Linked DNA regions of Homo sapiens: all the other regions are reported to be linked to region 1. Evidence: microRNA targets listed by miRTarBase, many of them from high-throughput screens and not tested one by one. Region 1 holds a microRNA gene; each other region holds the end of a gene's coding sequence.
The links. The annotated mature microRNA hsa-miR-30b-5p reads UGUAAACAUCCUACACUCAGCU and lies in region 1 at 4,739-4,760, opposite strand. An mRNA with a match to its seed (bases 2 to 7 or 8) in the 3' UTR can be bound and repressed. Matches are read on the target gene's strand: a 7mer-m8 pairs with bases 2 to 8, a 7mer-A1 pairs with bases 2 to 7 and ends in A, and an 8mer does both.

Region 2: miRTarBase lists CAND1 as a target of hsa-miR-30b-5p. Seed matches in the 3' UTR shown: 7mer-A1 at 978-984, 7mer-A1 at 1,702-1,708 and 7mer-m8 at 2,646-2,652.
Region 3: miRTarBase lists RUBCNL as a target of hsa-miR-30b-5p. Seed matches in the 3' UTR shown: 8mer at 6,301-6,308.
Region 4: miRTarBase lists KLF4 as a target of hsa-miR-30b-5p. The part of its 3' UTR that is shown has no 7-base or 8-base seed match.

What each region holds. Positions count from the first base shown.
Region 1 is chr8:134,795,832-134,802,957 of GRCh38, forward strand. It overlaps MIR30B (microRNA 30b), which reads right to left and starts at 4,776; the gene lies at 4,689-4,776. It also overlaps a transcript of ZFAT not described here.
Region 2 is chr12:67,312,457-67,319,582 of GRCh38, forward strand. It overlaps CAND1 (cullin associated and neddylation dissociated 1), which reads left to right. Exons shown (of 15, transcript NM_018448.5): 15 at 150-7,126. The coding sequence ends at 374. Among named protein-coding and RNA genes, the nearest start is that of CAND1, 47 kb to the left of the region's middle.
Region 3 is chr13:46,336,876-46,344,001 of GRCh38, forward strand. It overlaps RUBCNL (rubicon like autophagy enhancer), which reads right to left. Exons shown (of 15, transcript NM_025113.5): 15 at 1-6,622. The coding sequence ends at 6,510. Among named protein-coding and RNA genes, the nearest start is that of LINC00563, 43 kb to the left of the region's middle. RefSeq lists an enhancer at 2,237-2,316.
Region 4 is chr9:107,479,906-107,487,031 of GRCh38, forward strand. It overlaps KLF4 (KLF transcription factor 4), which reads right to left. Exons shown (of 5, transcript NM_004235.6): 4 at 7,123-7,126; 5 at 4,947-6,021. The coding sequence ends at 5,846. Among named protein-coding and RNA genes, the nearest start is that of KLF4, 6.3 kb to the right of the region's middle.

The DNA of each region.
Region 1 (7,126 bases):
CCTCATCTTGTGCTTTGGGAGAGACAGGATTTGGGTGAGGAGAGCTGGAGAAGGCCAAGAGGCCTTGAGGCTGCTTCTTTAATTCAGCATGTCAAAGCCCCATATTTTGGGGTATTGATTTCTGAACCTTAACGTAATGAAGCCTCCACAGAAACTCAGAAGGACAGGGTTCGAATGAGCTTCGAGACAGCTGAACACATGAACTGACTATTCCCAGAGGGTGGTGCACCTGGAGAAGGCACAGAAGCTCCGTGACCCTTCTCAGTATCTTGCCTATGCTCCTTGTCTTTCTGGCAGTTCATGTGTATCCTTCATAATATCCTTTATAATAAATGGGTAAATGTAAATAAAGTGTTTCCCTGAATTCTGTGAGCTGCTCTAGCAAATTAATCACACTTGAGGAGGGGGACCTCTAGCCAGTTGGTCAGAATCACAAACCGCTAACTGCTTGTGACTGACATCTGAAGTAAGGGGTAGTCTTGTAGGACTGAGCCCTCCACTTGCGGGATCTGACACTATCTCCCAGTAGATAATGTCAGAATTGAACTGAATTAGAGGACACCTGGCTGGTATCCACTGGAGAATCTGCAGTAAAGAACTGCTGGTTGTTGGTGGAGAGAAATCCCCACACACATTTGGTGAGAGAAGTGTTGAGTGGAATGTGAGAGGAGAAAGCACTTCTGGTTTTTTCCTTTATCTCTAATAATGTTCCTTCTCCTGCATTGCACTGCCTCCTTAGGAAGCACCAGGAATAAGAAAGGACATCTGCTTTTCACATGTGTCACTTGACAGACTTGTCATGATGATGGGTTAATAAAGAGACTAAAGAAAACCATTACAAAAAAAAAATCTGAAATTTACTTTGGCCACAAAGATGAATAGCAGTTGGACATTCTTGACAACTGCTTCTACTTTAGGTCTAGTGACTATGAAGCACAAAGATTCTCCACATATCATTAATAAATAAATATATATATGTATGCAAGCATGTATTAACTTTGCTTAATGTTTTAGTTTAATCTGATATTAATTTCTATATGTTAAAAGTTCATTTATCATCCATGTAACATAGTCTTCTGCACATCTAATCATGACATTGTATCAGTGACATAGTCTGGTCACTGCATTTAATACAAATACTGATTTGAAGAATTTATAACATTAAAAAAGTTTAAGATTACAGATTGAATGACCATTTAGAAAGTTATCTGAAAAAGAAGGACTGACAATACCCAACCCACAAACTGTTTCTCATTCATACTTATACCTTTACTTGAAAAATAACTCAGTATTTTGGTGAATACTGACTGTGCTACTGACTACAAACAGGAGATAATTTTTTGTATGTGCTATTGACTACACATAGGAAAATAATTTTGTTATATTAAGTATAAATAAAATACCCGCCCCCCACCAAATTTTCAGATAACCTATAAAGTGGGGAAAGCTTATCATAATGTCAAAATGACTGGGATATCGAAATAAAAGTAACTGTATACCTTTTAAGTGCCTTTTATACCCTTCAACCAAAAAAACCTTATAAAAGTCCTCCCTACCCCCAGGGAATTTGAGCTCTTACAACATTTGCACAGAAAACAAGTGGCAAAGGAAGTTTCTCAAACTAATTTTAAAAAACAGAACAACCCACAAATCCTGTTTTTATTTTTTGACAAAAGAAAAATACTGAACATTTTTTAAGGAATGATTTTGAAACAAGCAAGGAAAAGGTCACAACTTTGAAACCAGTTATAACTGCACCTGGATAGTCCCAAGACAGAAAGTTAAGTAGCTCAACAGGTTCTACTGCTAAGATTTTGAATCACAGGAATAATGTATATTAAATAGTAAAAATACCCTTGGGACTAGTTGTTTTTCATAAAAGTTAAAGAAAGTTAAGGCTAATATTAAAAAATAATCCTAATTTATATACATATAAAAATTCTAAATGTGAAATTGTTGTTTTATAATGTACTAGTAGCTTTGAGAAGAATTAAAATTAAAAAAATAAAAATACCTTTACATTTTAACCTGGAATTTAAAACAAGAATATTTCTAGATTTAAAAAACCTCTCAATATGAAGTCATTATCAATGAAGAGGTTAGTTGATTATAATATTGCATAATATGTTGCACTGAGTAACACTTTTGACATTTACTAAAAAAAAAACACATTAAAAAAAGTGGAAATGAACATAACTAAAAGATAAACTCTATTATATATTACAGATTCCCCCCATCTTGACTGACATTTTTCAATTACTGAAGTCTACAGGAGACATTTAGAACCATAACATTTTCCTATTGGAAATCGATGACAAGAGAAATAAATCATAAACAGGGGAGAAGCTAAATAATTCATGCCAAATGCTCACCAAATAATTATAAGATACCAAATCTTCAAAATTCACAGAAAAAAGTTCAAGTTTAATTTCAGAACATATCCCAAAATTATCAAAGACATCCAATTTTACATTATGTTATCTATTAATACCAAATGGCAATATGGTAAACAAGAGGGGAAAACTGAGACATTTTAACATATATCCAGATTTCATAACATTTAAAACTGATAAGCACACATTAATCAGAAAATATGTGATTAGAATATATTTACTAAAATTCTGTAACAATTCTAATAAATATACAGTGTTTTAAAAAATGAAGGCATGTACCTTCCTGTAAGGGTGGGAGACAGCTAACTGTAAGTAGAATGTTTCACTGCATTAATTCAAACAAGAAAAATACTCAAATTTTCACTTAAGTACAACATAGTTTCATGTATAGCTTCTTCTAAGAGACAAAGTGAGGCAAATCTGATAGCCCACATGATCAAAGACCTTATTACATAATCAGGAATGTATGTAATATAAAGATATAAACATATGGCCATTAAACAAGAAGAAAAAAGGCAATGAATTAAACACTAGAATTAGGAATTTAACCTACAGGCTATTTTGTAGCCTAAACCACATGCATATGCTGAGTATTTTTCACATCTAGCATATGAAAGAAAAATTCTATATTTTATGCACTGAGGTTCAAAAACAAATTGATGGGCAATTCCCAAATATGCTTAATTTGGGAGAAAAACACTTCATAAAACTACCTTTACATTATATGCTTTGTAATGCATTGCAATATGTTTCTCAAAGTACTATAAATTATAAAATAATGTAAAAATTTGGCAAGTTTCAAATTAACATGTGGAGCTCACTAAAACATAGTATGCTATGCACCTAAGTACAGAATAAAACAGCTCTCTCGTAATGACAAAGAAAATTAACAAATTATTCATTAAACAAATAAAATATATAATTAGAAAAACAGCACTCACCTTCAACAAGTCTCCATGCTTTCATTTCACATTTTTATTTAATCATGTATTTCTCATAACATTTAGACATCTTCCACAGGAGCACCAAGCATGAATTCTAATTCTGGATTTAGGCACAGGCAAGAGCATACAGACACTTGCCAAGCTGCTAGGATGTGTGTACTTCTTACATAATTTTCGTTTTATACTTGTTTGTTTTGCTTTTCACCTATACAGAATGTGGATGTATCACCAAAAAAAGAAAAGGCAGGCTGATTTCATGGAACTGAAAAACAAAGCTATAAAAAATTAATTTTCAGTATTTTAAGTAAAGACATGAAAATGGAAATAACGTTTAGACCAATCAGTACATATATAGAACTAATTATCAGGTATTAGCTTATTTTTAAATTGTTACCTCATTTAGTCTCAACAATCCTATCAGGTAGGTGCTATTATAATTTCAATTTAGTCGACTGAGGAAACTGAGGCACAGAGAGATTAATAACTTCCCCCAAAGTAACATAGCGAAGTAACTCGCAGAATCAAGATATGAGCTCCAGAAGCTGGGATTCAAAATTCTTTGCCACTATATTACAACAATATCAAAGATTCAAAGCATTTCCATTAAACCAAAAAGTTGGCATCATCTTTATTGCAAAAATAAAAACAAGTTATGTCTGCTTTAAGCATTATGGCAACTATTTACTGAACACCTACAACACAGCATTAATAATAACTAGCATTTATTGAGTACTTAATATGACAGGTACTGTACTAATGAACAACTTTATATTCATCATGTAAGTCAATCCATGCAATCACATACTTATTTTACAGATGAGAAAACCACTGAGGTATGGAAACAGTGCCTTTCCCTCCTCCAAATCCCGTAGCAAATTCACTTGTGGAGTCCAGATGGCAACAAATGTCTGATGTCAAAGCCCATGCTTGTTAAAGCACACTGCAATACTACAAACCCGACCCCAACTACCAAACAAGGGCATTCTTTTGTCCCAATACCCAGAGCCTTATGTCATGTTAGTGCTATAGCAAAATTGAAAAGATACAATAAAAATTTAAATTGAGTAACAAATTTAAAGGAATTTTAATAAATTTAGAGTAATTTTTCCTCTATAAGCATACTGTTTTTCTGTTTTAACTACTCCTACTGCAACCATGCTTTCTTCTGCTTTTCTCTGCAAACATATTCAAGTAGATCCCTGCCAGCTAGACAATTAACACACTTTTTCTCTGGGAGAACAAAATGGTCTCACATTTCCAACAAACCTTTAATTACATTAATTACATTAAAAATTCAAGCCTCTGTATACTATTCTTGCCAAATCTTTTATCAATGTTAATTGGTTGACATTCCAAGTCAGCTGAAGTAAACATCCACCTCCCAGCCAATCCATGTATTACAGCTGAGTGTAGGATGTTTACATGAACTGAAACTTGGTTTAAAGCAGGACTTAAACTCTTTACTAAGTTTGTACGGTTCTTTACGTAAGACTCTGTTGAAAAAAAGAACAGGCACAGCATTCACATAAATGAGGCAAGACTCAATCGGAAAGATATCCTGAGAGAAAGTGTAGAATCCAAGGAAAAGGCAGAAGTGAGTTGGGTGTTTGTTTTTTTGGAAGTGGGGGCGTGTCCAGGGCAGTGGGGGGCACTACAGGCACGCTACTATGCCCGGCTAATTTTTCTTATTAATAAAATTTTTTTTAGAGACAAGGTCTCACTATATTGCCCAGGCTAGTCACAAACAAGTGATAACGTTTTTCACCAAAGGAATTTACAACAATAAATGCCGACATCCTGTAGTGTTCCATATCTAAATGTAGCTGATTATCCAGCCTTCCTATATCCTTCCCTTCAAAACAATCAAACTTGCATTTATAAGAACTTACTTGATGACCAGTATGATGCATCAACCAATCTTCATTAAGAAGATTCCTCCTTTAGGTAAAAGACAGTTAATGAAACACTGTGAGGAGCTTAGTCATCTCTCCTCCCCCTCAACCCTCTCCTCATCTTCTCCCCCACATTCAGAATTCAGATAATTTCATCTCAGGCACATCTTTCCCACACTCTGATCTCTTTCCACCTTCTACTGTTCCCAGTGTCATTAAGGTGTCTCAAAGAAATGTCTCCCCCTCTTTTTGCATTCTTTCTGATTAAAAATATATTCCCACAAATATCTCCACTAACTATTATCAGTGGTCCTACCAACACACTTGCATCAAAGAAGAGGAAATCTTCAAATTTGGAAGTAAAACTACATATAATAACCACTGCCAGCAAACTTTAAAAATCTTTGGCATTTCACAGGTAACCCAGGACTTTCAGGAACCTCGCCAGTCTCTACCTAGTCTCTTGTCCCTTCGGGCTGTTTTCCAAAAGCATTGGTTCTCAAGATTAAATACACATATACCTCCCCGCCACCCCACTCTACAACCATACTGCTTTTCTGTTTTAACTACTTCTATTACAACCGTATTTTTTTCTTCTGCTTTTCTCTGAAAACACATTCAAATAGGCCCCTCCCAGCTAGACAATTAATATACTTTTTCTCTGGGAGAAAAAATGGTCTCACATTTTCAACAAACCTTTTTATAATCAAACTTCTGGATTAATACATGTTTTTAAGTTAAGGATTTTTCTGTTTTACTTCATGTATTAATTGGGCATAATATCTAGCAGGAAAAGAATGTAAGATGAGCTCTGTGATTCTGAAAGCATGGGCCTAGAGGAGCAGCATCAGCAGTACTTGGGAACTGTGGGGGGAAAAGCACATTCTTATGTTCCACCCCAGACCTACTGAATCAGAAACTTTTTTTGCAGGGCCCAGCAATCTGTGTTTTAATCAATAAGCCCTCCAAGTAATTCTGATGCAAGCTGATATTGAACAGCAATGGACTGTTTCACCAAACCTGTTGGAAAGCTAAAGCAAAGACAGCAGTGAATGTCAAATTACTAGGAAGTTTGTAATATGGTACAGATAAGAAAAAGGCAATGCCAAAACATGTAGCATGGGTCCACCCACAATTAACCAGGCTAGGCAAAGTGTGGCAGAGACTATCTGAAACAGCCTTATTTTAAAAAGTAACTAAGCCCAAACTGATATTCAAACTAAAAAAAAGAAACAAAAATATTACCTGAGCACACACAGCAAATAATGCACATTGATCCAATGAATAAAGCTGTAACAAGAGTAGAAGGGAATCACAGAACATGCTCGACGCAATACCACATGCATGCTGGGGTTTATAGGTTCACAGTCCATTTCTGGGTAACCTCAAGCCCATGACTCATGTAGAAGGAACTGAGGTGTGGAGATCAATGAGAACAAGTCCAACAGTGTATTTATATGACTATTTCTAACCAAGAATATTTGTACAAAAGCATCTAATTTGAAATAAATTGGAAGACCCAATTTTGTAATTAGTTATTTGCTTTAAAAAGTTGTCCCTAAGTCATTTCAGACCATATACTCAGGATAAAATACTGTCATTTACAGAATGGTGTTCAGTAACTAAAAATGTTTTACTTTAAATATCAATTGGTAGAACAAATCTTAAATAATAAGTAATTTCTGTGCTTTCTAAGTCCTATCAATGAATACCACAATTTTTTTCTTCAACACTAAGTTAAGGGCTAGGGAAACAAGTTATTACAGGCTTATTGACAAATACTGATGATCTAACATTTCAAGCCATTTGCTATAAATAATCAATTGCTAACCTTATAGGCCAATGGGAAGTTAGTGGTTCTTCAATATAAAAACATAAAGAAGCCATCTGAAAACTA
Region 2 (7,126 bases), not on the chromosome of region 1:
ATAAGTTTAAAAACAGTTGTTCTTAGAATGTAATATGCCTTATGGACCTACGAGAGTAGCTTTTAGCAGGAAGATCTTATGTGCTTAAATTTTGTTCATGTAAGAGCTGTCTTTTATAGCATGTAATCTAAGTTTACTCCATCTTACAGGTAAAGGCAAACTCAGTAAAGCAGGAGTTTGAAAAACAAGATGAATTAAAGCGATCTGCCATGAGAGCAGTAGCAGCACTGCTAACCATTCCAGAAGCAGAGAAGAGTCCACTGATGAGTGAATTCCAGTCACAGATCAGTTCTAACCCTGAGCTGGCGGCTATCTTTGAAAGTATCCAGAAAGATTCATCATCTACTAACTTGGAATCAATGGACACTAGTTAGATGTTTGTTCACCATGGGGACCATTACATATGACCATACAATGCACTGAATTGACAGGTTAATCATAAGACATGGAAAGAGAAGTGTCTAAAAGCTTCAAAATGTTCCACTTTTTTTTCCTTCATGGAGACTGTTTGTTTGGCTTTCTTCCATTGTTGTTTTTGTAGCATTTATTTCAGAAATGTGTATTTCCATAATCCAGAGGTTGTAAAACCACTAGTGTTTTAGTGGTTACAGCAACATTTGAAATGGAAACTAAAAGTTAGGATTTTATGGAGTATGGAGATAGGGTCCAGTATCTATTTACCCTGTAATGTTTAGGATTAAAATGTTAAAATTTTGTGACCATGAATTTCTTTCTTTTATAAATTTTCTCATTTAAAAATCAAAAATCTTGCAAAACAAAAACCATGTTTCTTTTTCTTGTATAACTTTTTGTTTTCAGCAACATAAATTGATTTTTAGCTGGCAGACAAGAATATCCATATAAGATTTGTTAACCATTTCAGAGAGTTTGGCAATTTTTAAAAGATAATAAGGTATCATTTTTAAGTATGAAAATTAACAATATCCCTGTTGCGCACACTAATTTTGCATGAGTAAGTTTACAAATATGTATCGTCTGTAAAGCAGCATGTGCAGATTATTCATAATATAGAAGTTAAAATAAGTATTAGTGCAATTTTCAGATATTTATTTTTGCACAGAAAACACATTATCTGGAGAGAAAGAAAGGAGAATTTTTGAGACTTGGGTTTTCTTAATGCCAGTGTGAATTTGCAGATGTTTTCAGAAAATCAAGTCACAGTAACAATTTGCCACTTTTTTCTATTATAAATCTTCTTACTTAAATTTTGAATATTTAGTTTTTCTCAGTTACCCATTTGTGTGTGTGTGATTCCACTTAGAAATTCTTAAAACCAGATTTTTCTTTCATTCCGTTTGGATGTCTACATTCCTTATCAAAGGATATAAATACTGTGTATGCTTTTGAATTTTATTTTTAGGAAAATTCTGAAGCCAGCTATCACAGGTTTGTTAGCTAATAATAGTATTTTCTTTTAGTTGAGTTAGGTTTTTCCCCATCTCCTGTAGAGCGAATTTACATATTGTATTGGGTAAGTGTTCACTACTTTTCCTGATTAAGGGATCTGTGCTGGGGAACAAAGCTTTTGCAGTACCTTATATTGTAGTTAAAATTTTATTTAACATATCCTTCAGTGAGCTCATTTCACACTGTAGCCTCTTCCTTAAAATTTGTGGTGCTCCTGTAACAGTAAGAACTAATTCTGAAATAAAAGACATCTCCTAATGCTGTGCAAACATAGTTTACATGTATTGAAGGAGGCAGTTGTTAAATTGAGTGACCAATTTAAGCAATCAGATATTTGAAAACTGCACCCTTTAGTTTTGAAACTGTGAATTAGAAACACTTTTCCTGCTGTATTACTACCTGCTTTAACATCCAAATATACAGTGATTTTAAATGATAACATACTGTGGTTATTAGATTAACAGCTTGATTTTGAATGTTCAGATGATAATGCAGAAGACATCACTTCTAGTAAGGATTTTGACTAGTGCATTGATGTTGAAGTTGGTGCCATTTCAAAATGTGGCAGGTGATAATCTTTTACCATAATTTGCATAAAACTGTAATAGAAGTTTATTTTGAGATGTTAGTATATTATGTACTATGCATTTCTGTGGTATAGATGTTGTGGATATATTTAAGTATTTGGTTACATGGTTTTACAATAAATTACAATACTGCAGGCTCTAGGACTGAACAGGAGACTGACATGCATATGTTGTGTGAATGTCTTAGTTGGGTAAAGTTAAATCCAAATACTTCAACTGGCTTTTTCTTCAGTTTGTTTGTTTTTAACTTTCAAGATGCATGTTTTGTTTTGTTTTGCTTTGTTTTTGTCTCTTAAGCCAATTCATTTTTCTAACAGTTGAAATTCTTTTAGTACTAAAGAAATAGATACTGCTCTTTTATGGCTTTAGTGTTTATATACCTGTTTATATGCATACATTAACAAAATTAGTAACAGCAGTGCTTAGAATTTCAATGCTGTGTCATACTGATGATTAACTCCATACTCCTAGTGGTGATGTGGTCCAGATACTGGAATGGAAGTGGCAGGATGTGGAGTCCAGACATAGTCTACCACTCATGCTACTTACTAGTAATATTAAGGTGTTAAACTTAGGAATTTGTCACATGTAGGTTCCTGAGGAGATCTAAAAGTTAATACAAAACCAAGCTGTTTACTGATTTTCATGAGAACATTTAAGTTAGTTTAGGTCTACCTGATTTATTTTAAAAGAAGGCAGAGGGCTGGACGCAGTGGCTTACGCCTGTAATCCCAGCACTTTGGGAGGCCGAGGCGGGCGGATCACGAGGTCAGGAGATCGAGACTATCCTGGCTAACACTGTGAAAACCCATCTCTACTGAAAATACAAAAAATTAGCTGGGCGTGGTGGCAGACGCCTGTAGTCCTAGCTGCTACAGCTGAGGCAGGAGAATGGCGTGAACCCAGGAGGCGGAGCTGGCAGTGAGCCGAGATCACGCCACTGCACTCTGGCCTGGGCAACAGAGCGAGAGTCTGTCTCAAAAAAAAAAAAAAAAAAAAGGCAGGAAGGAAATTTGGTATGGCAGGGCCTAACCTAAAAGGTTATTTATAAAATCAATAGCACTGAATGATAATTTTTTTAATGACAGTCATGTATTTTATTAATGATATCTGAAAGCTGCTTAACCATTAGGAATTACAATTCTTTATGGTTGGAGTATGATGATTTCATCAAATGTTTGAATATTTACATAATTTTTATGTAACCATAATTAAACCAAATTAGTCTTTTTTTCTTCATACTTTTCTTCGGTAAATAGTGAAGAAATAATGGGCATATCTAATTAACCAGTTCTAGTGGGTGTTGTGATATCTTTATATCTAGTTCAGTCTCAGATGTATGAATATGATTATATAGTCATGATTGAAGTTCAAAATGAGGAAGTATACAAAATCCTCAGCCACTGAAAAATTCAGTTAACTTGTTTATACTCCTGTAAGCTCTAGTTAGTCACAAGACAAAGTATATAGTAACACTTTGTAATGAAGTAACATTTTCTGCCCACATTAATTTTACTAAAGACCTAAATTGTTAAAATTAATTGCCAATCTCTGGATATATTATGCTTAGTAAGTGTTTTGAAATTAAAGACCTTAAACATTTCAGCAAGTAAATTTTGGATTCTAGCTCTGTTTTAAATTGAATCCTAATTTTCAAACCACTGCTACCCCAGATTCATACCTGTTTTTGAAATCTTGTTTATGGAATGGAAAATTGACAGTATGGTAATAGTTTATTGACTGATTGGACAAAGGATATTCTGGTTTTAACTGACTTTTCCATTTAAATAAAATTCATTTGATAATTTTGGTTGCAAAAGTGGAACACAGTGGAAGTATTTGGCTACAGGCTACCCAAATCTCATCAGATAAGGCTGTTTTCTTAAAGGAAATGCAAAATGAAATCATATGTTTTCCTTTTCCAATACAGTAAATTGCTTGTTTTCCTATGAATATCAGAAAAGATTTTGTAAACACCTTTGCTGTAGTTTCAGGCAAGATCTTTCAGCAACATGTTTTTGCTCTTTGTAACTTAGAAAGTTAGCTCTGAATCCAAAAACTACTGAAGTGAGTAATGCATATAATTTTACTTTTTTGGACCCTATAATGCCAGTGTGTCAGGTTTCAGAATGATATTTAGTAGACAGAAATACCTAATTTTGTTTTGGAATCTTAATACCCTGTCCTCTTCATAACTTTCTAGTGGTGATTTTAGCAAGTTTAATTATTTTGCTGAGGTCTTAGAAGACAGAAAGCTTATGCTATGTAAAGTGACATTGTTTCCAGATTAGGAAGTATTGGAATTAATTTGCTATTGCCAGTAAGTAATGGTTGATGGATATTAAGTGATTTTAGTCTAGAATGCTCTCAAAAAAATAGTAAAGAATTGTACTTCAGGGCCAGATGGCAGCTCACGCCTGTAATCTCAGCACTTTGGGAGGCCAAGGTGGGGGATCACTTGAAGACAGGAGTTGGAGACCAGCTCTAGGCAACATAGTGAGACCCTGTCTCTACCAAAAAGAAGAAAAAAGAAATCAACAACATGCAACCATAAGAATGGATGAGATGGCCCTAAAAGAATAAGGATTACATATAATGAGAAGACGTGTGGGCTGAAATACCTAGTGAACAATATTTAAGGGAAACTGAAGTGCAAATGGCCTCACAGGTTTGTTTTTGTGTTTAAGACAAGGTCTCACTCTGTTGCCTGGACTGGAGTACATAGCACGAACATGGTTTACTGCACCTCAGCTTCCTGGGCACAAGTGATTCTCCCACCTCAGCCTCCCGAGTAGCTGGGAGTATAGGTGTGTGCCACCACGTCCAGCTAATTTTTTTATTTCCTTGTGGAGATGGGGTCTCATGACCTTGTCCAGGATGATCTCAAACTCCTGGGCTCAAGCAATCCTGTGTTGGCCTCCTAAACTGCTGAGATTATTGCAAGTGCCTCCTTGCCCAGCCACATGTTGTTGATTTCTTTTTTCTTTTTTTTTCTTTCTTAATTTTTTTTTTTTTTTTTTTTTTTGAGATTGATGGAGTCTTGCTTTGTCTCCCAGGCTGGAGTGCAGTGGCGCAATATCGGCTCACTGCAACCTCTGCCTCCCGGGTTCTAGCTATTCTCCTGCCTCAGCCTCCCAAGTAGCTGTGATTACAGGCGTGTGCCACCATGCCCAGCTAATTTTTGTATTTTTAGTAGAGATGGAGTTTTGCCATGTTGGCCAGGCTGGTTTCAAACTCCTGATCTTAGGTGATACACCCGCCTCGGCCTCCCAAAGTGCTGGGATTACAGGCGTGAGCCACGTCCCCCAGCCAGTTTCTTAATCTATACATCTAGCCCAGTCCATGCCCCTGTTTCAGACTATTATATCCAACCACCTGCTATACATCTCATAAAGGTATCTCAAACACAGCATATCTAAAGCTGAAGTCATCATCTTGCCCTGGTTTTTCCTGTCTCTTTGCTGATGGCATCCCATTTACCCAGTCATTCAAACTGGAAATCTAAAAGCCTCACTTAGCAAGAGTTTGGAGGCAGAATATGATAAAGAACAAGGACTCTGGGAGGCCAAGGCAGGTGGATTGCTTGAGGTCAAGAGTTCGAGACCAGTCTGGCCAACATGGCGAAACCCCGTCTTTGCTAAAAAAACACAAAGAAATTAGCTAGACGTGGTGGCACATGCCTGTAGTCCCAGCTGTGTGGGAGGCTGAGGCAGGGGAATTGCTTGAACCTGGGAGGTGGAGGTTGCAGTGACCCAAGATTGCATGCACCACTGCACTCCAGCCTGGGTGACAAAGCGAGACCCTGTCTCAAAAAAAACAAGGACTCTACAGATAGATAGACATCATATATCATATTAGTTTGAATCCTGGCTGTTAGCTGTTAGACTTGGGCAAATAATTTAACCTCAACTTTCCCTATCTATAAAATGGGAATTAAAATATTTGCACCTTATAGGGTTATTGTGAGGATTAAATAGGAACATTGTATAAAGCACTTAAAACAGTACCTGGGACATACTAAGTAATATAATTGTTAACTCTTACTAGCATTCTGTCCCTTTTATTTCCTAAATATCTCTCATGCCCATCTCCTAAATATCTCTTTCCTAAATATCTCTCATGCTTTTGGCTTAAGACCTCTTTTCCTCCTTATCTATTGACTGGACTGCGGCAAATGCCTGCTAATCGTTATTTTTGTGTTCATTCATTTAGCAAGCCAATTTATTACGCGCTTAGGGTGCTGCCAGGGCTACAAAAGCTGTTGAGACTGTACTTGATATGAAGAAGCTTGCTGATTATCATGGGAAGACTGACATAAGGAAGCACCATAAAATTCTGCTGTATGAGAGGTATACACGGGATACTGGGGGTTAATAATTGAGGGTATGGTCCATTCAACATGAGTGAGACAGAAACAATTCATAAAGGAGATGAAATGTCTTGAGGAATGAGCTCTTAGAAGAATAGTTTTCAAATGAGTGTGCATCACAGTCACCTGTAAGACTTATTAAAACAGATCGCTGGGCCCTACACCCAGAGGCTGTGGTTCAGTAGGCTGTAGTAAACCAGTAATTTGTATTTCTATGACGTTCCCAGGTTCTAATGCTGTTCCCCAAGGCCACACCTTGGAAACCACCACATTAAAATACCCAGAAGGCATTAATTCCCAGTCCTTCCTCTACACAGCTGCAAAACAATGGTCCTGACCATTTCATCTTTGCACTACATCCTTCACTGTCTCTCTTTTGCCCATAGGATAAGTACAAACTAGATCTGGTTACTGCCTGCCCCACCAGCCTCAGCATCTCTCACAACTAGGACTAACTTTTTCTTCTGACAACTATAAAATATTTCCCTTGCCTTCTCAAGTTTGCTCAAGGTCAAGTTATGCCTTTTGCCTGGAATGACTTGACTTCTCTTTTGTTTTACTTAGCTGGCTGCTTTTCATCTTGTAGGTTAGGTCAAGGACTCCAGGAAGTCTTCCCTGGACAAGTAATGAAGAGGGCATAATCCAAGGGCCAACTCCCATGTTTGGAACCTGACTCCATTTTCAGGCACGTAATATTGTCAAATTCCTTTTAAAAGCACCTGTCTGTCTGTTAACGTTGGTG
Region 3 (7,126 bases), not on the chromosome of region 1:
TATTTTTTAATGTAAGGAATACTAGATAATATGGATAACTCAGAGGAGTAGAATAGTTTTTGATGTCTGCATGACTGTTATGGACTGAATATTTATATCTCCTCAAAAGTCATGTGTTGAAGACCTAACCCCCAATTGTGACAGTATTAGGAGGTGGAGCCTTTAGGTGGTGATTAGGTCATGAGGGTGAGGCCCTCACAAAGGGAATTAGTGCCCTTGTAAAACAGACCCCAGGGGGTTCTCTCTCTCTCTCTTTTCCTTTTTCTTTTTTTGGGGGCAGGGAGGGGGGACCAAGTCTCACTCTGTTGTCAGGCTGGAGTACAGTGGCGTGATCTCAGCTCACCGCAACCTTCAACTCCCTGGTTCAAGCGATTCTTCTGCCTCAGCCTCCCGAGTAGCTGGGATTACAGGCACTTGCGACCACACCTAATTTTTGTATTTTTAGTAAAGACTGGGTTTCACCATGTTGGCCAGGATGGTCTCAATCTCCTGACCTCGTGATATGCCTGTCTCAGCCTGAGGCATATATCTCAACTTTGGGAGTGCTGGGATTACAAGTGTGAGCCACCGTGCCTGGTCCGCTCTCTCTCCTTTCTACCATGTAAGGATACAGTGAGATAGTGCCATCTATGAACCAGGAAGTGGTCCCTCAATAGACATCAAATCTGCTGTTGTCTTGATCTTGGACTTCCTAGCCTCCAGAACTGTTAGCAGTAAGTTTCTGTTGTTTATTATCCACCTAGCGTAAGGTATTTTATTATAGCAGCCTAAACAGACTACGACAGTGACAAACCTGTTCCCTCAGTACTCATCCCCTGGACAACAGGTATCAGGACATCTTATGTTAGTCAGAGTAGGGTGGGTTACACTGTAGGAACCAGCCCCACAAAAATCTCAGGAACTGAACAAAATAAAGGTTTATTCTTGCTTGTAAAAAGTCCAATGCAGGCACCGCACTCCTGAGTAGTTCTATTTCAAACAATCACTCAGGGAGCTGGGTAGGGCCCTCAGGAATGTGGACCTTCAGGGGCTGCAGGAGCAAAGGGAGAATAAAGTCTCTCTCATAGCTTCCAAGAGACTTTCAAGGGCAGATAGAAAGGATCAAAGGCTGCCAAAAGTTCAGAGAGCTGTCCCCAGTAGAATAATGAGGTAAATGCAGATATCAGAGTGTAAGGAGAAGGGAGCATGTGTGTGCACGTGCAGTACGCTGAAGAATGGGCAAGATCGGGAGGGAGATGAAAAGGGGAAGCGCCCACCACTCCCATCTGCAGAGCCCATGCAAGAGTACAAATACAGGTCCACATGCCATATATCCAAGTATTTAAAATTTGAAATATGTTTTATCTTCCTACCATGGTGAATATCCCTTCATCAGGACCCGAGAAAGCAGGTTTGAATTTTGAAATCTTTGACTCCTCACTGCTCTGCTCTGGAGCATGGTGGCTCAGGTATAGCTAGCATTGGGCCAACCCCTGCCCCTCTCTCTTCCCACTTTGGCTCCATCCTACAAGCAGCTGCCCCTTGGCTGCCTCTTGGTCTTAGCAGCGCAGTTCACTTTCAGGAGGCTGGACCAGGGGAAAGACCTGAGCAGCCCTAAAAGTGGGGTTGAGACCACAGGGCAGGGGATTCTGTCTGGGGCTCCATTTGATCTAACAGGAGGGGTGGGGGCTTTGGGTGCGCTTGCCCTTTGTCTCCTCACCAATGGGGATGTACGTAGCCCGAGGAAGGCCAGAGCAGGGCCTCTTTCCAGGATGAAAGGGCAGTCCTGATCCCAGGCAAGGGATGCAAGAAGAACAAGACCATGGAGGCAGGAACACGGCAGGACTAGAAAAGAGGGGGCAGCCCTGGGGAGAAAGAAGCCTGGAAGCACAAGCAGAGGCCAGAAAATGTTCAAGGAAGGGCTGGGCGCGGTGGCTCACACCTGTAATCCAAGCACTTTGGGAGGCCGAGGCGGGTAGATCACTTCTGAGACCAGCCTGGCCAACATGGCGAAACCCCGTCTCTACCAAAAACAGAAAAAAATTAGCTGGGCATGGTGGCACATGCCTGTGGTCCCAGCTACTAGGGAAGCTGAGGCAGGAAAATCGCTTGAACCGGGAAGCAGAGGCTGCAGTGAACTGAGATCACGCCAACTGCACTCCAGCCTGGGCGACAGAGCGAGACCCTGTCTCAAAAAAAAAAAAAAAAGTGCAAGGAAAAATACACAATTTGCTTAACCTATGTGGTTAAGCTCTTCAATCCTCAGTCCCCTTGGCTTGGAGAGCTGCCCAGATATGCGAGGATGCAAAGGTTCTCGATTTCTCATGTTTGTGCTGAAGCTTCCCAATTGTGTCTGCAGCCTGCTACCTCAGCATTACTCATAAAAGTATTGTTTTAGTTTCTAGTGAAGTGAAAAAGGGGAACTACGGTTTTCCTTCCCATACCAGTTGAGAAATTATTTAAAGACAGAGATCCTTAAATGCTTGTTTTAAGGAAGCACGCTTCTAAAAATGACACACTTCACCCTCCTTTGGCGATGAGTTCAGGAAGGCTTCCTGCAGGTAGCATCTGACGGTGGCTAAGCCAGCCATGCAGGCTCAGACCTGGGGGCAGAAACTGAATGTCAAACCCCTTCCTGACATGTCTACCACGTTCCTTCCAGCAGGTTTGAATTCCGAAGTCTCAGACAAATGACCACACTCTGGGTGGTTTAAAACAACAGGGTCAGGCGCAGTGGCTCAGGCCTGTAATCCCAGCACTTTTGGAAGCCGAAGCAGGCAGATCACCTGAGGTCAGGGGTTAGAGACCAGCCTTGCCAACATGGTGAAAACCCGTCTCTACTAAAAATACAAAAATTATCCAGGCCTGGTGGCGTGCGCCTGCAATCCCAGCTACTCGGGAGGGTGAGACAGGAAAATCACTTGAACCCAGGTGGCGGAGGTTGAAGTGAGCTGAGATCGCACCACTGCACTATAGCCTGGGTGACAGAGCAAGACTCCATTTCAAAAAAACAAAAACAAAAACAAAACAAAACAAAAAAACCCCAGGAATTTATTCTCTCATAATTCTCAATGTCAGAAGTTTGAAATCAAGGGGTCAGCCATGTTGGGTTTTTTTTTTAAGGCTCTGAGGAAGAATCTGCCCCCTGCCTCTCTCCGGCTTCTGGGGGCTGCCAGCAATTCTTGGTGCTCCTTGGCTTGTAGATGCATCACCCCAACCTCTGCTTTTTTTCTTCCCTGCATCTTCTCTCTTCTCTCAATTTCCCTTTTCTTATAAGGACACCAGTCACTAGATCAAAACTCATCCTAATGCACTATGTCCTCATCCTAACTTAACCACCTCTGCAAAGACCCTACTTCCCAAAAGGCCACAGCACAGACACCAGCATAGACCTTTAACATATTCTTTCATGGGACACAATTCAACCCACAACAGTAGCTATTGTTCTAATCCTTGTATTACAGATTATAAACTGAGACCCAGGGAGTAACTTACCCAGAGATACAGAAAATAAGGGGTATGACTCAGTTTGTAATCTGTCTAGACCTCATTATTACCATTTGCCCTTGCTTGTACCAGGCCTTTTAGTGGGTGCTTCATTTTCATTTCTAATCCTTATCTCAACTGCAGAGAGTCATATCCCTCATTTTACAAACAGAGGCTTAGATAATTTAAATGGCTTCCCCAGTGTCTGAGTCTATTTGTGTTGCTATAAAGGAATACCTGAGGCTGGGTGATTTATAAAGAAAAGAGGTTAATTTGGCTTATGGTTCTGCGGGCTGTACAAGCATCGCACCAATATCTGCTTCTGGTTAGGACTTGTGGCTGCTTCCACTCATGGTGGAGGGGAAGGGGAGCCTGCGTGTGCAGACTCCCCTTGTATGGAAACAGAGGAGGCAAAGAGAGGGCAGGGAGGTGCCAGGCTTCATAACAACCAGCTCTCATGGGAACTAAGAGTGAGAACTCACTCATCACCACAAAGGTGCCACCAAGCTATTCTTGAGGGATCCACCCGCATGACCCAAACACCTCTTATTAGGCCTACCTTCAACACTGGGGATCAAATTTCACCATGAGGTTTGCAGGAGTCAAACAAGCCAAACTAGAGCACCAAGTCACCATGGGTAGGTAGAAAGTGGCATATTTGGGATCTAATCTGAAGTTGTGGCCAATAATTCTCACCCAGGTCAACACACCAGACATCTTTGGGATGGCTTGCTCCTCCTCATCCTATAGCCTCTGCCTTGAGATGGTGTAACTTCCTCCCTGCAGTTGAGAATCATGACTGTAAATGACACACTACTGGAATTGCCCATGTGAAGAGTGCAGAGGCAGAAAATGAATCACTGACCTTTACAGCACTGCAACTGATGCCTCACAGTGGGTAATGGTCTGACCAAGCATTCATCTTCTTTCCGGCAGCCAAGGAAGAGTTGAACAGAAAACCCACACAATCAGGAAGACCCATTAAACAGCTATATATGCCACAACTAATTACTTCCTTATGGGGTGCTCCATGTGGGCTGAAGATCACTTCCCTAACAGGTGCCTTCCTGGGAAGAAGCCTCTATTATCACATTGGAGAGGAACAAAGTCTCAGACAAATCCCATACTGCAGTTATTTAAATGACCTCATTCTTCCTCAAAATAGAAAATCAAAAGCATCACTTCCTGGCAACTGCTGTGCACTCTTCCTTAATATCAAAGATATGTAACACACACAGGCTCATCAGTGCCTTACAAACATACAAACCCTGAGCACAGAGCCCTTCAAGCAATGCTTGAGCCATAGCAGCTGCCTTAAATCAACACTGATGTGAGAAAACACTCTGCCCAATGCCACTTCTGCAAGTTGGAGCAACACTTACCAGTTAAGGTTGTTTTTACTCCTTTGTCTTGAAAAGACACCACAAAAGAAGCAGGGCCTAAGCATGGGCTTTGGAGGCAGGTGGACTTGAATGTCAACCCCAGCTCCATCATGCACTTCCTGTGGGAACCTAGGAAAGTTATTTCTCTTCTCTAGGCCTCAGTTTCCTTGCCTGTAAATGGAGATATAGACATCTGCCTCAGAAAGGAATGTGAACATACCACTCTTACCCTTGATTCTTAACAGGGAATAGGAGCAATGGGCAAGAATGAAACATTGTTTGAAGTCTGGTTTTATTTATTCTATGTGCCTCTACACTTCTATAATACTTAGAAAAGATCTGGCTTAAATAATGGATGTGAGCACAGTTCTGGCAGAGGCACTGCGGATGAGAAAACAATTGACAGAATGAGAAGACTGAATGAAAAGAGATTGACAGAAGTCATTCATTTCTTTCATGTGCTCAGTACTATCCCATTGAATAAAACACACTCATACACATGGCTGGATGGGGTTAGGGGACAATCTGTGACGCTTTATTGCCTGCCTGTGCTGTCTGAGAAAATCAAGGTAGGTTTAGTTAGGGCATGTGAATCCCAGGGAATGTAATGCCCAAGCCCTAGGTTGCAAACCGTTCAGTCTAAAGGTATACCATGAAGGGACCCAGCCTCAAGGCCCCTTTCTCAAGTGGGAGAAAGTATATAGAAAGTAGAAGAAAAAAGAATAGGCTCACATGTTTCAGGAAAACATATAAGAACTATTAGAAAAAAGAAATTCATAAAGGTTTTGTGATTCATTTAACCTTATTAGTCAATGTCTATGATTTTAATGTTATTACTAGAATCACACTGTTCATTATTTCCCCCAGTTCGTTTAAATCTGCAAATACCTTATGTTCAGTTTTACATCTGTTAAAGCAAGATCCTCAAGGGCAGGGATGGAATTCTACTCACTTCTGCATCCCTTGACATTGCAGTGTGTGGAACAGAGATGACAAATACAGGTTCAATTTGTGCCACCTGAAAGAGTGCCATCTAGAAGCAGTTGCTTCAAACTGCACTTCAACGGGACCCACACGCCCTGCTAAGCAACTCAAACTCATCATGAAATAAATCTGCAGAAGAAATGTGTACTCTCTATTCAAACTCTGAAGTAAATAAAATGTGTATGATTGACACAATCACAAAATGGCATTTAAGTGGAAGTCTGCTTCCTGAAGAAATAAAAGCCAGAGCAAACAGATTTGGGGTCATATTTTTGTTCACTGAAAGGACCAACCAGTTTCATCAAACAAGCTTTAGAGAAAGAGAAACTGAGTAATTCATCTTGTCAGTTACAGTTCACATATATGCACACACATACAAACTGGCTCAGCATCAGTGAAACATAACTATTCAAATACAAAAGTATAAAAAACCTCTTTAAAAAACCAATAGCAGCCAAAACAGAACATTTGTAAACAAAACCACAACTATCAGCCCTGTGCTTAAACACAGAATCTGCATTCTTTTGAAACATTAAGTATATGCAATAAAGAGAATATAGACCATCTTTTTCCTTAATATACAATACCCAATATCTAAAACAATGTCACCAATAATAGACACAAATCGGTGTTATCATAAGGCATGTTGAACAGTCTTTTTCACAGTACTCAGGGGCATCATGTTGCTGCAGAGGCCACACTTTCCAGAAGTTTTCTCCTCGCTGTGATCCTCGCACACCGGGGGCACTCGGAGGACTGGAAGCACTGTTTGTGAAAGCAAGCCCTGCACGCTGCAAGCAAGGAAGAGAGCCGTTAGCAAACGGTCTATCTTGTTTTCTCACATTTCTGCAGACATTCGTCTCCATCCTAGGGAGGGAGAGGGGTCTGAATCCAGAGCCCAGAGTCTTCTAAAAAGAAACCAGCCAGGCTGAAACGCACGTTTCAGCAGGTCACATTTCAGCAGACCTGTTGGACTCTTCCAACAGGTCATGAACAGGAGGCTCAGAGAGCCTGATGTAACGGACACTGCAGTGCCCCCTGGATCTGCTCAAGCACTGAGGCAGGCGTTTCCCCAGCTGCCAAGAGAGGTGGTGGCTGATAACTCTTGGGAAGCCACATTGTTTCTCTAGATATGGCCCTACATCGAGAAAGCTGCTTTGTCCCCTTCCTGGCACCAGCCTGCATTCAATGACTGATCACTATATAGTGAGTAGGCCGGCCCCAATTTGTCCCCAGTTTGGAACAATGCTGAAAGGCCACCAAACTCCAGAGCTCCCCGTGAGATGAGCTGAGGG
Region 4 (7,126 bases), not on the chromosome of region 1:
TCTACTTAGATTATATTATTATAACATGTAAAATGGACATGAAAAGAAACATAACCAGCCTTGGCAACATAGGGAGACCCTGTCTTTACAAAAAACAAAAGCAGGCCCGGCACGGTGGCTCACGCCTGTAATCTCAACCCTTTGGGAGGCCGAGGCAGGTGGATTACTTGAGGTCAGGAATTCAAGAACAGCCTGGCCAACATGGTGAAACCCCATCTCTACTAATAATACCAAAAAAAAAAAAAAAAAAAAGAAAAATGTTGTGTTAGGTATCCTCAGGTGAGATGTCAAAGGGATTTCTAACTGTGAATTTACTTTTTGCTGTTATTAAATTGAATTTGTTTATTTCCTCCTTTCCTTTAAGAACAAGTGGAGGCCGCGCGTGGTGGCTCACACCTGTAATCCCAGCACTTTGGGGGACCGAGGCGGGAGGATCACTTGAGGTCAGGAGTTCGAGAACTGGCCAACATGGCGAAACCCCGTCTCTACTAAAAATGCAAAATTAGCCTGGCGTGTTGGTGCTTGCCTGTAGTCCCAGCTACTCTGGAGGCCGAGGCAGGAGAATGGCTTGAACCCAGGTGGCGGAGGGTTGCAGTGAGCAGAGATTGCGCCACAGCACTGCAGCCTGGGCGACAGAGCAACGTCTCAAAAAAAAAAAAAAAAAAAAAAGACCAAGTGGAGAAAGACATTTGGGCGAATGATTGCAACATGCTGACTCATCTAGGGTGTCGAGAAGACCGAAGCAATTTAAAAAAGTATATTATATCAAGGGCACCGTGGAAAACAATTAAAAAGATGGGCTCCAGATGCACATGACTCCAGAGAAGCAGTTTGACTAATATTTCAACCCCATGCACCCGTTCCTCCCCAGCTAAGTTAACTGGCTGTGGTAGCCTTGATTCCAGCCTGAAAGATTTTTCTGTGTATGCTAACATTTTAGCAGTTGCTTTCCCTCTGTTTTGACTGTGACCAGGGGAGTAAAGCACCAGGTTCTTCAAATGGATTTAAGAATTTATTAGTTTTTCAGGAGATGGTGAGAAATTTACTCAAGATTCACCTTGCTGTTTAAGATAAAGTTTTCCAAAGGGAAACTTTCCAACTTTCATTTTAGTTTCATTTAATGTAGAAAAAAAGTTTTTATTTTCATGCAGTATTCTAACTTTAACAGTAGTTTGTGGTTTTCCTCCCCCCCACAGGTAGAACATTCCATGATATTTTTTACAGCATTCATTATATAGACTGGTCTTGGAGGTTTTATATGAAATATTATTGAATGACTCTGCGTGTGAACAATGAATGATAGTTTCATAAACAACCTTTAGGAGGCAGACATAGCTTCGGTTTAGCACTATAAAAACATGTCACTATACAATAGCCTGTAGAAGGTGCTACGAAAATACAAAGAAGTAAAACAAATAGATAAAACGCAATATGTAATAAAATCATGAATAAAATGATAAGAATAATACATAAAGTAAAAGGGTTTATGTGGGACTGGGTGGCATTCATGTCTGTATGAGAGACAGGGAAATAAATGGACAAGAGTGGGTGAGGGAGTATCTAGGCTACAAATCCATCTATGTATGTATGTTGTGTTGAATGGAGCTTCAGAAGCCAGAACATTTAATAGGACAGGTGGCTGATACAGGCTGCTAAATTTAGATACTCCCATTTGTTGAAGTACAACAGGTACCACCACTGCTTGTTTTAATATTTTCTCTGTGGACTTGCTTCTGTAGCATAAAGACTACCTCCCCTGGGCTTCCTTATATGGAAATAAATTATATGTAAAAATTATCAATCTCCAACTGTGAAGAGCATTTCATGTTTCTAAAAATTGTAACACTTTTTCATTGATTTTTTTTTTTTTGATAGAGATGAGGTCTTGCTATGTTTCCCAGGCTGCTCTCAAACTCTTGGCCTCAAGCAGTCCTCCCACCTCAACCTCACAAAGTGTTGGGATTACAGGTGTGAGCCACCACACCCGGCCTGGAACAATTTTTGGAAGAAAAAGAAATATTCCTCATGACCATCCTACTTGAGATAGTGAAAGCATCTGTTTTGTTTTACAAACTGAAACAGGATAGCAAGAGTCAAATACGTTTTCAGGCAGAAAGAATTTTATCAGAAGAGACATTTTGCTGGAAAATAGGTGGACTGAAAGTCTGTTGATGTGTGTAGGAAACATCATTGTTAATCCTTTGTGTGTGTAGGCACACAAGTTAAAATAAGAAACAGTAAAATTAAGTGTCATAAGGAAAATATAATAAGCAGGCATCACAATTATTAGGTACTCTTTATTGTATAGTGTATAAACGGCTCTGTAACACCATAATGACAGCACACCTAGGAGCCCACAGCTGATAGGTCCCAGAGTAAATAATTTAGCTATTGGCGTATGTCGAATAGTATTTTGTTTGGTCACAGTTTTGGGAAATCTTCCTCATTCATTTTAGATATTGAAGCTTTCTTTTTCAGGCTAGAAAAAGTTAATGTAGGCTGGGTGCTATGGCTCATGCCTGTAATCCCAGCACTTTGGGAGGCCGAGGCAGGAGGATTGCTTGAGCTCAGGAGTTCGAGACCAAACCTGGGCGACATAGTGAGACCCTGCCTCTATAAAATTTTTTAAAATTAAATTAAAAATTAAAAAAATAGGGGTTGGGGAGAGGGAGCATCAGTTAGAATAGCTAATGGATGCTGGGTTTAATATCTAGGTGCAACAAACCACCATGGCACATGTTTGCCTATGTAACAAACCTTCACATCCTGCACATGTACCCTGAACTTAAAAGCTGAAGAAAAAGAATTAAATAAAAATTAAGAATAAAGAAAAAGTTAACGTAGAGGAATGTTAATCTATGACATCAGAAAATTTTAAATAAATTTAAAATTCTTGATAGTTTATGCATGTTTCTTCTATTCGAGATAATATGCACTTAGCAAATATAAAGATGGCATTTTTCAGTCATTTTCATACACCGTGTGCCAAAAGATTCTGTATAACAGAGGTGGATTACAAAAGCAACCAACCACAATTTAACAGAAATTTAAGAAATTTAAACTTAAAGAAATCTAAACATAATTTACAGAATAATGTGTTCTAATGAGGGCTTTTTGTTTAAATAATTTTAATTGTTCTTTATATCTTCATTCTTATGAAAAAGTTTTTCAAACTTACTATAGCTGTTTTAGAATATTTGAAAACTTCAAAAAAGAAAATTTAGGCTGGGCACGGTGGCTTATGCCTGTAATCCCAGCACTTTGGGAGGCCTAGGTGGACGGATCACTTGAGGTCAGCAGTTCGAAACCAGCCTGGCCAACATGGTGAGACCCTGTCTCTACTGAATATACAAAAATTCGTCGGGTGTGGTGGTGGGCGCCTGTAATCCCAGCTACTCAGGAGGCTGAGGCAGGAGAATCGTTTGAACCTGTGAAGTGGAGATTGCAGTGAGCCGAGATCACACCACTGCACTCCAGCCTTGGTGACAAGCAAGAATCCATCTCAAAAAAAAAGAAAAGAAAATTAAAACTGAGAAAACCAGTATGAATATTTTGGCAGTTCCTTCTAGGGTTTTCTCTTAATTTCCTTTTGTTTCTCTCTCTCTCCTTCAAAGCACACATACACTTAAATGTACACAGTTGAATTGGTACTGTTGATAGTCTTATATCCTGCTTTTTCCACTTAACATTACTATGAGCATTTTTCCATGTCATTAAATATGCTTTGAATATGTTCTTGGCCACATAAAATTCCATCCTATTGATGCACCTGTTTTCTTTTAAGCAGAGACACATGCTATGCTTTCCAGTCATGGTGGACTCTCAAAAGCCAAAGAAAATACCTTGTGCTGATCTACCATAAGCCTCTTATAAACATCCATTTTTTATTTCATTTATTACATGTACCCATGGTACAAACGCACCTCTGGACACTAGATACAATCAATAGTTAATAAGCACTCTAAAAAAAATGCCAGTGAGCAGTGAGCTCTGTCCCCTTGATGATGTTTAGTCACCCACATCACTATTACAAGTATATAAGGTGTCAACAAGTGTCACAAATGCTTTTTCCATTTTGCGATAGCCCCAAATGAATTTCAATCTTTCAGGCACCCATCTCAAGAACTTCAGATTCTAACAGGGCAGTTTTGAGTTTTAATATTAAAACTTCTAATATAAACGCTACAAACTTACCATAACACCATCTTACTTTACACTTAGTTTTATGAATTTGAATAATTTTTAAATTATTTTATTTCAGTTTGTTTTCCCACCTTCAGTCAGGGGAACTGATTTAGCTTTAAAACAATCTGCCAGAAACTTTGGTTCTGACCTCTTTAAGGCTGTAACTAGTAGAAGTGATGTATCTTTAACACACACCAAGCATAAATGAACCCTTTAATCCTCAGGAGGGCACTGTGGAACTACGTTCTTAGGGTTGTCTGCTGTAGGAAGGTTCTTTTGTTACTCAGATGTGAGGGGTGCTGGGACAGGCCTCCACAGAAAACTTTTTTATTTTTATTTACTTTAAAAGACAAACCATAAAGATTTTTTTCAAATATGAAACTGAAATGTATATATTTCATAAATATTTTCATACTAAACTGAGCAAATTTAAGGATGATTAAGCTGTTTCTACTGGGAAAATCATAGGTAAGGAAACTGCTTTCACGTAGCTTTACGTACATTTGGAAAGAGCAAACCTGAACTGGGTTTTTAATCTTGTAATTTTTAAACGTACAATAATCAAGAGTTCTCAGCCCTATATTGATAGTATTTATGGTAAAACTAAATAGTTTTTTTTTAATAAAAAAAGGTATTTTAATTTGTTGACATAAAGTTGGCTTTTTTGTGCGTGCTTCTTACATGCCTTATTAACCCGGTGTGTTTAAACCAAACACTGTTCATATTTTTCCAGGAGGAAAACAAAACAATAAAAAACATTATTCAGATAAAATATTATAGGTTTATTTAAAACTTAATTCTCACCTTGAGTATGCAAAATACAAACTCCACAAAATGTTCATTTTACTTTGTAGTTTACAAATATACAAAATAGACGTTTGCTTAAATTTATATTACATATTTATTAAGGCAAGGAACTATATAGAAAAACACATTTGTTCTGCTTAAGGCATACTTGGGAATAAACCATTGTACAAATTATTGCACATCTGAAACCACAGTGCATAACAGACTGTCTGCATAAAAATGCTAAAGAAGTAAACCAGGTATATTACCTGACTTAGGTCATAAATGTTGATCGGAAGACAAATATAGATTTTCCTTGTCAAAGTATGCAGCAGTTTGAAAACTTTGGCTTCCTTGTTTGGTACCTTTAGAACCAAGACTCACCAAGCACCATCATTTAGGCTATTTAAACATGTTTTCTGTACCTGAATTTCTTCCTCTTCTTCTAACATCATAATAATGGCTTTTAGAAGGTAAAGAGAATACAAGGTGATCTTTTATGCTTATATTGCATCAATACACAATTCAAGGGAATTCTGGTCTTCCCTCCCCCAACTCACGGATATAATTTATACCCTGATATCCACAACTTCCAGTCACCCCCTTGGCATTTTGTAAGTCCAGGAATATTCAAGTCGGATTTAGAATTGGAATGATAGAAGATCCAGTCACAGACCCCATCTGTTCTTTGATTTTTGTCTTTTGGATTCCTCATTTTTCCTGATTATCCACTCACAAGATGACTCAGTTGGGAACTTGACCATGATTGTAGTGCTTTCTGGCTGGGCTCCTTCCCTCATCGGGAAGACAGTGTGAAAAGTAAAAAATACTGAATTCTCTTCTGGCAGTGTGGGTCATATCCACTGTCTGGGATTTAAAAATGCCTCTTCATGTGTAAGGCGAGGTGGTCCGACCTGGAAAATGCTCGGTCGCATTTTTGGCACTGGAACGGGCGGTGCCCCGTGTGTTTACGGTAGTGCCTGGTCAGTTCATCTGAGCGGGCGAATTTCCATCCACAGCCGTCCCAGTCACAGTGGTAAGGTTTCTCACCTGTAAAGGTAAAAGAAAAAAAAAATTGACGCTATTGCTATATCAAAGAATCGCCCCTTTTAAAAACTGAAGGCCAGATAGTAAACCAACTCTGACCCTATCCTAAAGAAATCCAGGAATGTCTTTATACCACTGAAGGGGTGTATTGAATTCCATATCATAAACAGAAATACATTCCGTGCTTAAGTATTTGGTCTTGTTTTTAGGGGGTCAGTTAAGCACACAACCACCACCTACACCTATACTAATGTTTCACCAAAAACACACAAACACCACCTAAACCTATACTAATGTTTCATTTGAGTCAAGGCATCTCAGTGGTGGAAATGAAATTTGGAAATTGTGATTGGTAGTGTGCCCAAACCATGCAATCTTATTCCTACTACGACTGGGGATAAAAAGCCACAGGTGGCTACTTTTTTTTTCTTTACCTTTACGTTACTGAATGCTGCACCTAAACGACTTTGGGTACCTACTTACATTGACATGGAAATGCTCTGCAGTGACAACCCTAAATCAGAATCTTCCCAGCAATTTTGACCATCATATTCTTGGAATTTAAAATAAAACCTTCTGCTTGTGGGGGAAAAAAAATAAAAATGTAAATCAAAACGAACAAAAAATAAAAAATAAAAAAGTAAGACCGAATTGTTACGACCAGAATTCAAAATAACAAAAAGGGAGGGTGAACCTGGGAAGGGAACATTAAAAAACGATTTTTTTAAAAAAGCCATCATGCTTTTGCATAGCAAAGTATAATTTCTTGATTATAATGCCAAGCTAGGAGAGGCCCACAGACCGCGGGGAATCTCCTGCCTTTTAAAAGCCTAACAAAATTGCACATTCAAACACAGATACCATCCATCAAGCAAAAGGCTCCTGGGCAGAAAAGTAGGCGCCGGTTTGCTGTTCTCTCCAGTGATCCCGGAGATCAAGGCGATAGACTGCCCTGGGAAGCCAAGGAGGCACTGAGGAGTGTCCACTGGTAGCCTATGGGGCTGGAAGCTAACCTGGGAAGTCAAGGAGGCACTGAGGAGTGTCCACTGGTAGCCTATGGGGCTGGAAGCTAACCCCCCTCCCTTCTGCAGTTTGTCCCCCTACCTGT